Linked DNA regions of Homo sapiens. The protein of the gene in region 1 purifies or fractionates together with the protein of each later gene. This does not show direct contact. Each region holds a gene or a part of one and is shown on either strand. Other genes may lie near its edges.

What was found.
Region 2: the proteins of ECHDC1 (region 1) and PPP2R2C purify together in Homo sapiens (co-immunoprecipitation; one large-scale study listed by IntAct). This does not show direct contact.
Region 3: the proteins of ECHDC1 (region 1) and RMDN1 fractionate together in Homo sapiens (co-fractionation; one large-scale study listed by BioGRID). This does not show direct contact.
Region 4: the proteins of ECHDC1 (region 1) and SLC2A12 purify together in Homo sapiens (co-immunoprecipitation; one large-scale study listed by IntAct). This does not show direct contact.

Annotation. Positions count from the first base shown.
Region 1 is NC_000006.12:127,333,610-127,337,109, forward strand, and holds part of ECHDC1 (ethylmalonyl-CoA decarboxylase), read right to left. Parts: intron 1-3,500. UniProt on the Homo sapiens protein: Decarboxylates ethylmalonyl-CoA, a potentially toxic metabolite, to form butyryl-CoA, suggesting it might be involved in metabolite proofreading. Acts preferentially on (S)-ethylmalonyl-CoA but also has some activity on the (R)-isomer.
Region 2 is NC_000004.12:6,375,115-6,378,614, forward strand, and holds part of PPP2R2C (protein phosphatase 2, regulatory subunit B, gamma), read right to left. Parts: intron 3,459-3,500; coding exon 3,293-3,458; intron 818-3,292; coding exon 705-817; intron 1-704. UniProt on the Homo sapiens protein: The B regulatory subunit might modulate substrate selectivity and catalytic activity, and might also direct the localization of the catalytic enzyme to a particular subcellular compartment.
Region 3 is NC_000008.11:86,474,768-86,477,686, forward strand, and holds part of RMDN1 (regulator of microtubule dynamics protein 1), read right to left. Parts: intron 2,558-2,919; coding exon 2,527-2,557; intron 830-2,526; coding exon of another isoform or gene 768-829; exon of another isoform or gene 627-767; intron 187-626; coding exon 53-186; intron 1-52.
Region 4 is NC_000006.12:134,046,125-134,049,624, forward strand, and holds part of SLC2A12 (solute carrier family 2, facilitated glucose transporter member 12), read right to left. Parts: intron 1-3,500. UniProt on the Homo sapiens protein: Insulin-independent facilitative glucose transporter.

The DNA.
Region 1 (3,500 bases):
GCTTGAAATTGACCATGGTGGGACTACATGACATATCAATCATACTCTCTTTCTCTTACACACACACACACACACACACACACACACACACACACACACACACACAGTTTACCAGTATACCACCAGTTATAATGTATGCATTTGCTCAACCTTAGAATATACTGTCAGTTTTTTAAAATAGCTGTACAAATGTATATTCCCACAGGCAGTGAAAGCTCCAGTTGCTCCACAAGTATCACTTCTTCTTTGTTTTTTCTATTTTAGGCATTCTAGTGGATGGTATCTTACTGTGGTTTCATTTTGTGTTTCTATAATGTCTAACGAAGATAAACCCCATTTTCTTATGCTTATTGGTCATTTGCATATCATCTTTTGTGAAGTTCCTGTGCAAGCTTTTTGCCCATTATTTCTATTTATTTGCCTTTTTATTAATTTGTTAGAGATCTTTTATTCTTCTGCTCACAACTTTCCTAAAACCTACAAGACATGAATCTCACATTTCTATCTCTAATTCAGACCTTATGCCTGTACTCCTTAGTATTGCCTAACAGAAATGCAATCCCTTACCCCTCATTTCTAGATTTATCATAGGCTTCTCAAAATCATTATTTAATCCTGAACTCATACTTCACGTAAAACCCATTACTCCTTCTTTCCCTGAACTATTCATTGTATCATCAACCCTGTAATCTATGCCAGAAAACCTCTAAATCAACCCAGTCTCCTTCTCCACCACTATTTGGAGGTCCGTATGCAATGGCCCTCCAAAATGGTTACTTCCTTCTGATCTTTCCCTCTCCTATTACTAATACAGTTCAAACTTCATTACATATAATCTGAATTAATACAACAGTCACCAGTTAGTAGCATACTGTTCTTTAGAGTAATGTGGATATGATTATAATCCAATCAGGACATTTCAAATTTAAGGTTTCTCAGTAGCTGTCTACCAAAAGGATCAAGTCCAAAGCTTTTTTTAAATTCTTACCTAAATCCTGAATCTCTTCTCGTCTGATATCTCTACACAATCAATACAGAACACCAAATAACCAGAGTCCCACAAATTTACCATGCTATTTTATATTATTGCTTCTCCCCTATATTGTTCTTTCCTCCCTCATTAACCTGGTAAATCCCCAATCATTTTTAAAAACTGAATTTCTATATTTCCACCTAAAAGTGATTCCCCAAGTAAAGATAATCACTCCCTTTATTTATCCCAGCTCAGTATACTGCAATAATGTTCCATTTTAACACATTCCTCAAATCATTTCAATTTTTCATTTGTTTTTCTCAGTTGGAAGGATGCTTCCTGAGAGTATTCTGAGGTACATACTTTGTGTCACTAGTGGCTACAGTACTTAATACATAAAAGGTACTTACTTAATAGTTAATGAGGGAGAATGTAGGCAAGTAAAAAAAATAACTCATCACGCAGCCAAAAGGAATGCCACAAACTTGTTTTATAGCTTTAAAAATATATCTAATATGTGAGTTATAAAATGGTATCAGAAACTGACAGAGAACATATAAAGGTTACAATACAATATCTGGTTTCCACTTTAAGTCACATGGCCTTCAAGTGACATTTTTACCAAAGTGTTTCCAATGAATACTTACCTGAACACACAGTGGGATGTAATCCCCTCAAACACATATATTTCAAAAACTTGAGAACAGTATTTCAAAACTTTACCAACTAAGGTGGCTTATAACTACAATATTGAAGATACCAAGACCTTTCTTAAATCTCCTCAAGGAGACTGAAGTGTAACTCAGATAAATTGTGACCTAATGCATTATATTTTAGAGTGTGACAAAAAAAGTAGCGGGGTGCTTGTCATCTTAAAAAATGGTATCTAAGAATAAAAACTTGATGTTATTTTTCCAAGAAAAAAAAGATGTTCTAACTTGCCATCATAAATCTTTGATAGGACCTGCTTTTAACTGTCATAACTTTATTCTTTCCCTTAATTTCAAATCTGTTATCGTCTTTCTTTGTATCCTCCCTCCCTCCCACCAAAAAAGTCACCAGTTGCCAGCAGCTATGGTTACCGAATAAAGAATAATGAAAGCACTGGGTGACCTACTTAATGAATTGTGATTAATAAGGTTTGGGTCAATGTGATATACAAAACTAATAAGCAACTAATAAGGAAAGTGGTCAAATGTTACAAGTTGCAAAATATCTAAATATTTAGTATTTTCAATACTTTAATGTCTTCATCTATTGGCAATTCCATACTCCTTTTCCAAAACTCATACAGTATAACTTATGAGACATCCTTCCATCCCATCACCTGTTCTGTCAAATTAGAAAATGATACGGTATTAACTGATTCTATGGTATTAACAGATTTTAAGGTATCTAAGGCCTCCTGAAGAACTAGAAAGCTAGAGGGAACAATGATCAAACATGATTTTGCAACATTCTAGGATATTTTCAGTTAATTCAAGGTACCCTGCAAGATTTTTAAAATAAACTTCAAAATAAAAGAATCTAATTAGAACATGGAAATGTTTAGTGACACAATAAAGGCAGAATGAAAGTTTATATCACAGATGTTCTCACCACCTAATTTAGTGCAATAATAGGTACTTTACCAGTACTACATAAAATTACCGGGCATGTAGAAGAATGAGAGGATACTGTGAAACTAAATAAAATTTTTAAATGCCAAAAATTACTGCCATATACTTAAATAATAGATTATTTAATTTTAAACAAATGATTCACTTGAAATAATGTTCCTGCAAATATTATTTTCATTCACTGAATATTATTCCCCATATTTAACTTATCTCTTTCCCTTATATAGCTCCATTACCCAAAACTGCAGTCTGGTTCAAAGACCTATTTCCCTGCTTTCCCAAAGGGAAGTAAAAGTTCTGTCTATGGAAAGGAAGTATTTCTGAAATTATTACCATTAGTTATCTACCATTATTGGAAAATGAGCTATCCTGGTCAAATAAACTCTCTCTTTAACTGGAAAGCAAAACTTTCCTGGGCAAGGACAAATTCTGTGGTTGAGAGTTTTCTTGCTCTAAGGCACACAGAACTGTATTTTTAAATATTTTACCCTGAAGGAGAAATAAAGTGATAAGCATAGAAAATTCAAGTCTACGGAAAATGGAAGCGGGGAAAAGTTTTACAAATAAAATGTTACCAATTACAAAGTGTGAAGTGGTTATGAAAAAAACACCAAGGATTTTAGACACTTTCTAAGTTATCACTCAAATGTAAATATCAAGTTGCCTCAAAATCTCTTAGCTAGTGGAAGCAACTTAAACTAAAAATTTCAGACTTTATTGAGAAATGCCAAGCAATGGGGCTTGAAACAAATTGGTTAACCACACTGAGGACTAAGCTCTGATTTTTTAATCTTGCCCAAATTCCCACCTAAGGGGTCTGGGGAGTCATGCCCTACAAACCATAAATTCTCATCAGATGGGTTTTATTTAACCCTGTATATTGTGACTTACTTTTCAATCTGACTCTG
Region 2 (3,500 bases), on another chromosome or scaffold:
TCTTGGGACGGGGGGTGGGGCAGGGGGCACCAGCACCCTCATTACTCAACATCGAAGCTAATCGGCTGCCCACTTCCTCAGAATTTATTTGTGCAATTTGCCAGTCATTTAGGCCAATGTATTTAAACATTTATTTCTTCTTCTCAGGAAGAGCACTGACTACTGCTTTATATTTATGGCGGCTCACTGGATGCTGGGCACGTGTGTGTCTGTTTCAGGGTATGTCTGTTTCAGGCCTTTGTAGATGCTGAAGGCCTCACACGGTCCAGGCTTCCTTCTGCCCTCAGTAAAGGACTCAGGAGCCACAAAGCTCTGCTGACCCATTCTCTTTCTGCCTCTGCCTACTCACTCAGCTGAGCAGTTTTAGGTGAGTTGCTGTCTCTCTCTGGGCCTCAGTTTCCCCCTTCTTATAACAAGGGATTATCTGCCTTGCTCTCCACCCTCAGCTATAGGTGAAAAGCACTTTACAGCCATACACCACCCCTGCATGCTCACAAGAAGCCTAGAAGAAACGTGGTCATCTGTATGCTGCTGGTGAGGAAACTGAGGCAAGGGGCAGGAAGACGCCCGTGGCCGCCCAGCAGCCAGCAGCCCAACCAGGGTCTGCACCTGACTCTGGCTCAAATCTCAAAGGCTTTTCCAGCCCTAAAATCCTCAGGTGTAATAAAGAGGCGTGTGCCTGCTTCCCCCTCACCGGAGCTCACCTGCAGTGACGTCACCGTGGACAGGTCCTTAAGTTTCCCCTCTTCATCCTTCAGGTTGTATCCTTCGGGCCTTTTATCTCGTTCGGTAATCTTCCATAATTTGATAGTTTTATCTTTAAAAACAGAACAAAATAAAGCGAGTCACATAATTAAGCAGCCGGATGGAAGAGAAGATCCACTTTAGAAGGTGAAATCATGAGGCACCTCCTGGGGAAGGAGGGGGTTCTGCCAACAGACGGCTTTGGACCAGAACTGCAGCTCTGTCTCGAGGCCTCCAGCCTTCGGCCTCCCTGCAGATTTCGGAACGGCCAGCCTCCGCAGTCAGGTGAGCCACTTCCTTAAAATAAATCCCCCTTTCTCTTTCTCACTCTCATACCCTACTGATTCTTTTTCTCTGGAGAACCCTGACTACTACAGGAGTCAAAACAAATAGCACCATGTTGATGAGAAGGAACTGGGAAGAGAACTGAGAACTGGGGTCAGTGGAGCATCTGAAAGGTACCCAAGGCCCTGCCATTAGGAAAGAGTGAAGCCAGGATTCAAACCCAGGTGGGAAGCTTTGAGGGGAGCGGAGTGTAGGGAGTGCTGAAAGATGACCTTTTCTGTAGAGAGGCAGGAAGAAAGTGACATGTCTTTTTTTTTTTTTCTTTTGAGACAGGGTCTCACTCACATCACCCAGGCTGGAGTGCAGTGGCACCATCTCAGCTCACTACAGCCTTGACTTTACCGGTCTCAGATGATCCTTCAATCTCAGCCTCCTGAGTAGCTGGGACTACAGGCTCTCACCACCACACCTGGCTAATATTTTATTTTTTTGTAGAGATAGAGTCTCACCACGTTGCCCAGGCTGGTCTCAAACTTCTGGGCTCAAGTAATCCATCCATCTCAGCCTCCCAAAGTGCTGAGATTACAGGCATGAGCCACCGCATGTGGCTGACACGTCCTTCTTAAATATTTTCAAAAGGAGCAGGTGCATGGGGACAGGACGAGGCTCCTGTCCCCCAGGGCCTGCCCTTCGGGAGGATCTCTCATGCTCTGCTGGCTCAGGTGACAGATTTGCTGGGCAGGGCCCCTTAGGGGACACAGATCCTGCCTTTGAGGTGCATGGCGGGAGAACACCATCAGAACAGCAGGTGCCCAGAGAGGGGGTGAACCGGAGTTAAGAGGAGCCAGGGTGTCACAGGAGGGATGCCTGGCTCAGTGGAGAGGTCAGAAAAGGCGGGCACCCAGCAAGGCTTATGGGATGAGGAGGGAGTTGGCCAGGTACAGGGCGAGGATAGCCTTCAGGCACAGGCGGGCTGGCAGAAGCTGCGCCTAGCCATGTTCGGGAGAGCCTTGGAGGCCCCGCTGAGGAGCGTGGACGTCCTCGGGGAAGGCGTGGGGACAGCACCTCGAAGCCTGGCTGGTGCTTGTGCAGCGGTTACTGTTCTCAGGGGGTTGAGTGGGCACCATTTCACGGACCCCAGAAGGGAGATGTGTCCACCCTGCTGGGGCTCAGGAAAGCAAGGTCACTGCCCAAGGGAGGCAGGGCAGGGACAGAATCCAGGTGTGTCCTGGCTGGGCACAGTGGCTCATGCCTGTAATCCCAGCACTTTGGGAGGCTGAGGCAGGCGGATCACCCGAGGTCAGGAGTTCGAGATCAACCTGGCCAACATGTAGTGAAACCCCGTCTCTACTAAAAAATACAAAAATTAGCTGGGCATGGTGTTGGACGCCTGTAATTCCAGCTACTCGGGAGGCTGAGGCAGAAAAATTGCTTGAACCCGGGAGGCGGAGGTTGCCGTGAGCAGAGATCGCGCCACTCTACCCCAGCCTGGGTGACAGAGCAAGACTCTTGTCTCTCAAAAAAAGAAAAAAAAGAATCCAGGTGTGTCCTACCCGACCCCAGGCTGCCTGGGTCCGCAGGGGGCCCAGGTGAAGGAGGATGGGCAGGGGGCGTGAGTGGGGGACCCAGGCCCATGGTGAGCCAAGCAGGACAGCCCCAGCCACTCCCTCAGAGTGGAGCCTGGGAAGCAGGCGTCAGGCCGAGAGCCTCCGGTGCCTGAGGGGTACATGCTCCTCCCTGAGGCAAGAGGATTAAGAGGCCGGCCGGGGTCCTAAACCAAGGCTCCTCCCACTGCCCCGCAAGGCCGCGGTGACAGCCCCAGTCTAGGGGTCTGGATTCGGCGTGGGGAGGAGGGGTTCACTTTGTGTCAAATATCCCCCGTGTCTGCGACCTGCATCCTTGTCCATCACACTCCCTCACCCCAAAGCAAAGGCCTACAAAGATGGCTCGGATGGCTCTATTCACAGCAGGGGGCAGCCCTGTGTCTGGCCATGGGGAGCTTCTGAGAGGGTCTGGCATACTCACTCATGGGATTTACATGCTGCTCAAAAAGGGGGGCAGCCCTGTGTCCAGACACAGGGAGCGTCTGAGGGGGTCTGGCATACTCACTCATGGGATTTATATGCTGCTCAAAAAGGATATTATTTTCTAGGCGTTCTGAAGACATAGAAAAATGCTCACAATATAAGTGAAATACAAACCAGCATTTGGTAGAAACATCTACGGCCTGTGCCCATGCAAGCGAGGCCGGGCAGCGCCTCACCGTTGGTGGACAGGAGTGAGTGGGCGGCGTTCTGCTGTGGGAGCCACTTGATCTTGTTGATCTTCTCCTCTATCTCCAGGCTCTTGAGATAGTCAAACTCCGGCTCGTGGCTCTGGAAAGTGCTGTACACGTCGTATTCGCCCTGGCTGTGGGGCGCATTTTTACTCTGCAGGGAAACCCGGAGAAGGGGCCTGAGCACCGTGACCTG
Region 3 (2,919 bases), on another chromosome or scaffold:
ATTTAATAGTGCCTCAAAACCTTTCTGCCTTACTTTATGGGAGATGTTTTACCTGTTTATCCTCCTCTGTGTGTGCTGGATAGTCCTTGGCTTTCATTAGCCAGAAAGCAGCAAGCTTTTTGTTGTGTAGTTTCAAGTATGTCTTTCCTAAAAGAAGTAAGTTTTTGCTGTAGAAGTTTGGATCCACTGCACATAAGAAAGAAAAAATGATCTCAGAGGAAACAGTGTTGCTTTTATTTTTAAAGGTTTGTTTCTGAGGTCTAAATTTCAATAAATTTGTGTGGTCAATAAGTGATTAGACTAATGGGAATTCTCTTTTGTTCAACTGTTTATATCTCAAACAAATATTTGTAAAATAATAATTACCAATGAATAAACATCTACAAATGTGCTAGGCACTGCATTATACACATTTCTCATTTTCACAACTTTGTAAGTAGGTATCTCCATTTTATAGATGAGAAGCTGAAGCTCCCGATAGAATGTATGCTATTTGAGGACAGCAATACTCTTTTTAATCTCTTTAGTTCCCTATGGTACCCCACGTGCCTACAACAGTGTGTGAAACATAACATACATTCAGTGTACATCGGCTGAATAAGTGAATGAAATGATGATGACATATATATATTTGATCAACATTTACTGGATGTCAGCTATACTTAAACATAGAGGATGAAACAAAACCTCTGTTTTTTTCAACTTTATAATGAAGAGAGAAACATGAACACAACTAAATGTAATATAAAAATGAAAGGAATGCTTTACTAGATATACAAACTTTGAACTGCTACAAGAAACCAAAAAAAAAAGTGGAGAACATTCTTGGCTGAAAGAAAAGCATAAACAGAAAGCCTATGAATGAAAACATGGAATTATCTCACCAACTTAATTCTTCACAAAGTGTCCCCCTAACAATCTGAGATCCTCTGTATTCAAAGCATACTTTTTCCTGTATACAATTAATGATTAACTCCATTTGCTCCTTAACCAAAATTGTTTTACTTCTTTTATTTGAGCAGATTTGTGTGATGCCATGTTGATATACTTAAGTTGTCCTGGGGTTAAATATATTCGTATATTCAATCATCCGATCATTCATCTATTTACTCAGTCATTCAACAGATTTGCCAAGCATTGTGCCAAGTAATGAGTGTGCAATTGTGAGCCAGAAAAGACAAAGTCCACATCTTCTCAGAATGTACAGTCTTACACATGTAAATGTTCATAGTATTGAGTGATAAGTATCACTGGAAAAATAAAAGATACTAAGGGCATCAGAGGAGCCTCTGAACTGAATATAGGCCAGAAAGAAATAAGGTAAGGTCACTCAAGAATGACTGAAGTTACCAGGGATTATTTTAGCTCCATGAGGGTAGGACCATGTTTTTCTCAACACCCCCAACCCTTAAGTCTCTAAGGTCCTATATTTTTACTTTGTAATTAACTTTTAAATCTGTTAAAAAAAGTCATCCCTAGATTCATATTCATGATATGTGAAACAGTATGATCAAGAGAGGGTATCAGTGAAGGTAATAATGAATAAATCAGAATTGATGAATTACAGAGATAAAACATTCAGATAAAATTCTGTAGAAGATAACTGTTATCATGAAATGAACAAGTCCATTATGTGTGGGATCTCAAATTTAATAAACATGGTATGTCTTCTCCTGATTAAGTTTTATAGAATATATTTCAATGGTTTTTATGGTCTATTTGGTATCATATGCTTATGTCTCTTATCTCCCCCACTTGGTGTATGAATATTAAAAAGGATAAATTTAGGATGGGCTGGTGGCAGTTTCATAGGACTAGTCATTTTTTCAAAACAAACATAACCCGAAACTCTTTTTCACAATATCTGCAATAGAACTAGCCTGGCTGAATAGCAGAATTCCCATTTAAATGCCTCTAATGAGATGCATAATCTTTTTTTGTTTTTTTCAGACAAGTCTCACTCTGTGGCCCAGGCTGTAGTGCAGTGGTGCAATCACAGCTCATTGTAGCCTGGAACTCCTGGGCTCAAGTGACCTTCCTGCCTCAGCCTCCTGAGTAGCTGGGACTACAGGTGTGTGCTACCACACCTGGCTAATTTTTATTTTTATTTTTTGGTAGAGATGAGGTCTCGCTATGTTGCCCAGGCTGGTCTCAAACTCCTGGGTTCAAGTGATCCTTCTGCCTTGGCCTTCCAAAGTGCTGGGATTACAAGTGTTAGCCACCACATCTGGCCAATATGTGCAGTCTTGAATAAGACAATTACCATGTCAGAGACTGCTCTCACAAAGGAAGCAGAATTACATCAAATGATAGACATTCCAGAACTGCAGCTCTAAGTTCAATAGCAGCCTATTTCTCATTCAGGTGATCTTTACTGAATAAAGACTTTAAAAATTGTTTTACAGTATCTAGCACAAAAATAAGTATAACAGAATAAACAACTGCTTTAGACATTGCTATTATAGTATATATTCAGCATTCATACAATTTTAACTATATTAATATGTGTAATCAAAAATACCTTACCTTGTTCTGCCCTGTGAAAGTAGCCTAAGGCCTGTCAAAAACACAAAGAGCCCAAACATAATAAAAAAGATTAAAGAAGACAATATTAAAAAAGCATTGTCTCAAAGATCTACTGCTATATTATATTTAAGTCAGGAAGTAAATCATCTTAAAATAATGGTCACTTCTTCAACAGTGAGAGTTAACACCCAAAGTGAACGTAACACTTCAATCATCAAGATTACAATATATGGACTACTTCTGGTAATAACTTGGTTGCTGTTTAGAACTTGTACCAAACTAACATCATGTGCAGAAAGGAAAGAACATTATCACGTGTAACTCAGCTATTTTGACAGTTCTCTTAAATCATAACTAGTGATTTTTAGTAAAAACAAAATATAATCAAAAGCT
Region 4 (3,500 bases), 6.7 Mb from region 1:
TTTTTAATTAGTATTACTCATAACTCCCAACTCTAACTTCCATAAAGTGTGGAAATGTGTGTGGGAGCAAGACATTTTGTATAAAATAATAATGGGCACTGCTAACAGCTCCAGAGCCCAGTGATGCCAGGCAGACCTGAGTCATGAGTTGTCTGAGAAGCAGCTACTTCCAAGGCAATCACAATTTAACAGTTTAAAATTAAATTACACTTGCTTTACTTAAAAAATATATTCCTAAAAGTCAAACAAGAATTGCATTTTTCTCCGTGGAATTTTGGCAAAACAGTATAAAATAAATCATTGTTCAAAAATAATGAAATCTCCTAAAACTAGAATGATGTAATAAATTATTTTAGTCTTACTATTATTTCTACTAAGTTGTTTAGAATAATTAGGTGGGCAGCGGTGCCTCACGCCTATAATCCCAGCACTTTGGGAGGCTGAGGCGGGTGAATTGCTTGAGGCCAGGAGTTCGAGACCAGCCTGGGCAACATGGTGAAACCGTCTCTACTAAAAAAAAATATATATATACAAAAATTAGCCGGGTGTGGTGGTGAGTGCCTGTAATCCCAGCTTCTTGGGTGGCTGAGGCACGAAAACTGCTTGAACCCAGGAGGTGGAGGTTGCGGTGAGCTGAGGCTATACTCCAGCCTGGATGACAGAGCAAAACTCTGTCTTACATTTTTAAAAAGAATGATTAGTATTACTGGGGCATAGTCATTTAGCAAATGCATAAAATAAGTGTGCTACAACATGGGAAGAAAAATGATACCAGTGTGCAAAGGCAAAACAAAATAATACAGAAAAAAAATTTGAATTTATGATTTACTCTAAAGGTAATATATTTGACTCAGTTTCAGCTGGGAAGTATTTTGGGGGATGTCACGTTCAGTGACATTAACTGATATTGAGTACTTTTGAAGGGAAGAAGGGATGAAAAATCATCCGCATTTGATATTTGGTCAAATAGCCTCTTGGGAAGGAGCCAATTCCAACTTTTCCTTTCTCATCACCATAACTTGGTATCTTTTAAGTGGCTTCCATTGCATTAATTTTTTCAATAACTCATCCTTCTGGGGGAGACTGTTCATGAGAAAAAATACTGAATGAAGGAGCTCTGACTCTATTCAATTTTAAAATCTTATATAACCCGTTCTTGCTCATACACTGAGTAAATAGCTGTTTCAACTGTTGCATAGTAATGGAGGGCCCTTTAGAGCTCTCAGAACTTTTTTAACCCAAAGGCTAGATAGTACCGAGAAAATGCTCCCTATGAAACCGTGATTCTAAAATGAACTATTCTTGAATGAATAATAAAATCCTACATACCTACAGCAATTAAAAATTGCAATTTCAAGTTGGTGGATTCATCTTTTATCTACACATGCAAATCTCAGCTTCCTTCGGCTGCTCCAAGGTAGATTCAGTGTATTTTGAGTTCTGTCTCTACCAACTAGTGTAAGCTCTAGACCACTAAAGACCACCCTCTTGAGAATTCACAGGAAAGATACCCTGTGGGCTCATATTCAGGTCCTATCAGCTACCACCAGGCCTATTCCTGGGCTCTCAGCTGCTTCAGCAACTGTTGGTAATCTGACAGAGAGAACGGTGATGTTGAGAATATTTAACAACTAGGACAGAGGCACCGACCTATCAGAATGGCTGTAAAAACTGGTTCAGGCATGCTGGTGTGCACCAGCTAATCTCAGCCTGCTCAGATGGGCCCAACCTCTTGGCCGGCTGCTCTCAGGCTGGCTTGGTCTGGCTCTGCCAGGCCCTGGCAGGGCAGGCTTCCTGCAGCGTGTGTCTGCTGCTGCTTCAGAGCCTGGGAGGGGGTCTGTGGCAACCTCTCTGCTCTCTCTGGGTGACACATCCTTAGAGAGGAGCAAGACCACTGCCGCGTACGATGCATAGCACCCAGAGTTTGCAGAGAAACATCTCCCACCATGTTCGCAGCCTTTTCCCTTCCCAAGAGATCCCAGAGGAGCCATTTGCCCAGTGCTCACAGTGGTGAAAAGCCTCAAATCTAGACTTTTGATGTGATTTCCAAGTGAGGTTAAATGTACAGTCACAGAGATACGCTGACTGGACTGAAAGGGGAGATATTTATGTTTAAATCTGGTCTCATGACCACACAGAAGAGCAAGTGGTCCTCCATAAATGAACACGTCTAAAAATCCTGTCATTTCCAGCCAGGCACTGTGGATCACACCCGTAATCCCAGCAGTTTGGGAGGCCAAGGTAGGCGGATCACCTGAGGTTAGGAGTTGGAGACCAGCCTGGCCAGCATGGTAAAACCCCATCTCTACTAAAAATACAAAAATTAGCCAGCTGCTCAGGATGCTGAGGCACAAAAATCACTTGAAACTGGGAGGCAGAGGTTGCAGTGAGCCAAGATCGCGCCATCTTACTCCAGCCTAGGTGACAGAGCGAGACTTCATCTCAGAAAAAACAAAACAACAACAACAAAAAAACCTGTTATTTCCTTGGAAATACGTATCACAGTAGACACAATCATTGTTATCAGATGTTGACTTGTTAAATACATATGTTTTTAAAGCACTATAATTTTTGTCACGGGTTTTGATGCTTAATTGTTTTTAATATATAGAAAGTGTGGAAAAATGGGAATGGCCCAGCATCAAAAACTCTGAGATGCCTGGGTCTGCCCAAGGTAACTGGCCTCTTACTAGAATCTGTCTTCTCACAACCAAAGCTCTGACATCTGCCCAAGCTGGTTGGCCTGACTCCCTCTTCCCTAAGGATGAGTTTGTTTCCAAGTCTCCGTCTCTTTTACAAGTTGACTTCCCCTAGAGCTGACTGACGAAGCCTGAGAAAGCCAGGCCTGACGAAATTCCAGGGGGCCCATTTTAAGCTAAACCCGGGAGAACAGCACTCAGTAGGAACTTAGTTACAGTTACATCTTACATACTCACCACCTGCCCAGCTTCCATTTAGGAAAAAGGAGTTCACAGCTTTAAAAGCGTTTTGAGAACAACTGCCTTAGAATGTTCATCTGCTGAGCAGAAGCGTGTATTTCTTAAATTCCAGACTGTGGCATCTTCAGAGGGGATAAAGGACAGTCCTTTCAGCTGAGTTCGTGAGTCCCGTTCTTCATGTTCTGGGTCCCAGTGCCAGAGAGTTCTGCAGTGCTGACAACCTGCACTCATACAGTAAATATTGTTCTTGTTTTCTGAACCTTTGGACAGTTGGGGGTGAAGGGAAACTTAAGAGGACTCTGTCCCCAGCCAATTGTTTGGATCATGAAATAAAGGAAGCCTGGGAGCTGAAGTAGAAGTCAGTATTGAATCTCCTGGGCCAGAGGCCACCAGGGTCAGTTCTGCACCATCCTCTGTGTGACCGTGGGCCGATCACACATCTTTTGACCTCAGATTTCCCTTGTGTGAGTTGCTCCATCCGTCTAATATCTCACTTCATTTATATCTGTTGTCAACTCTAGGCACCAGAATTTCAAACTGAGCTTAATCCTGTCCTATATT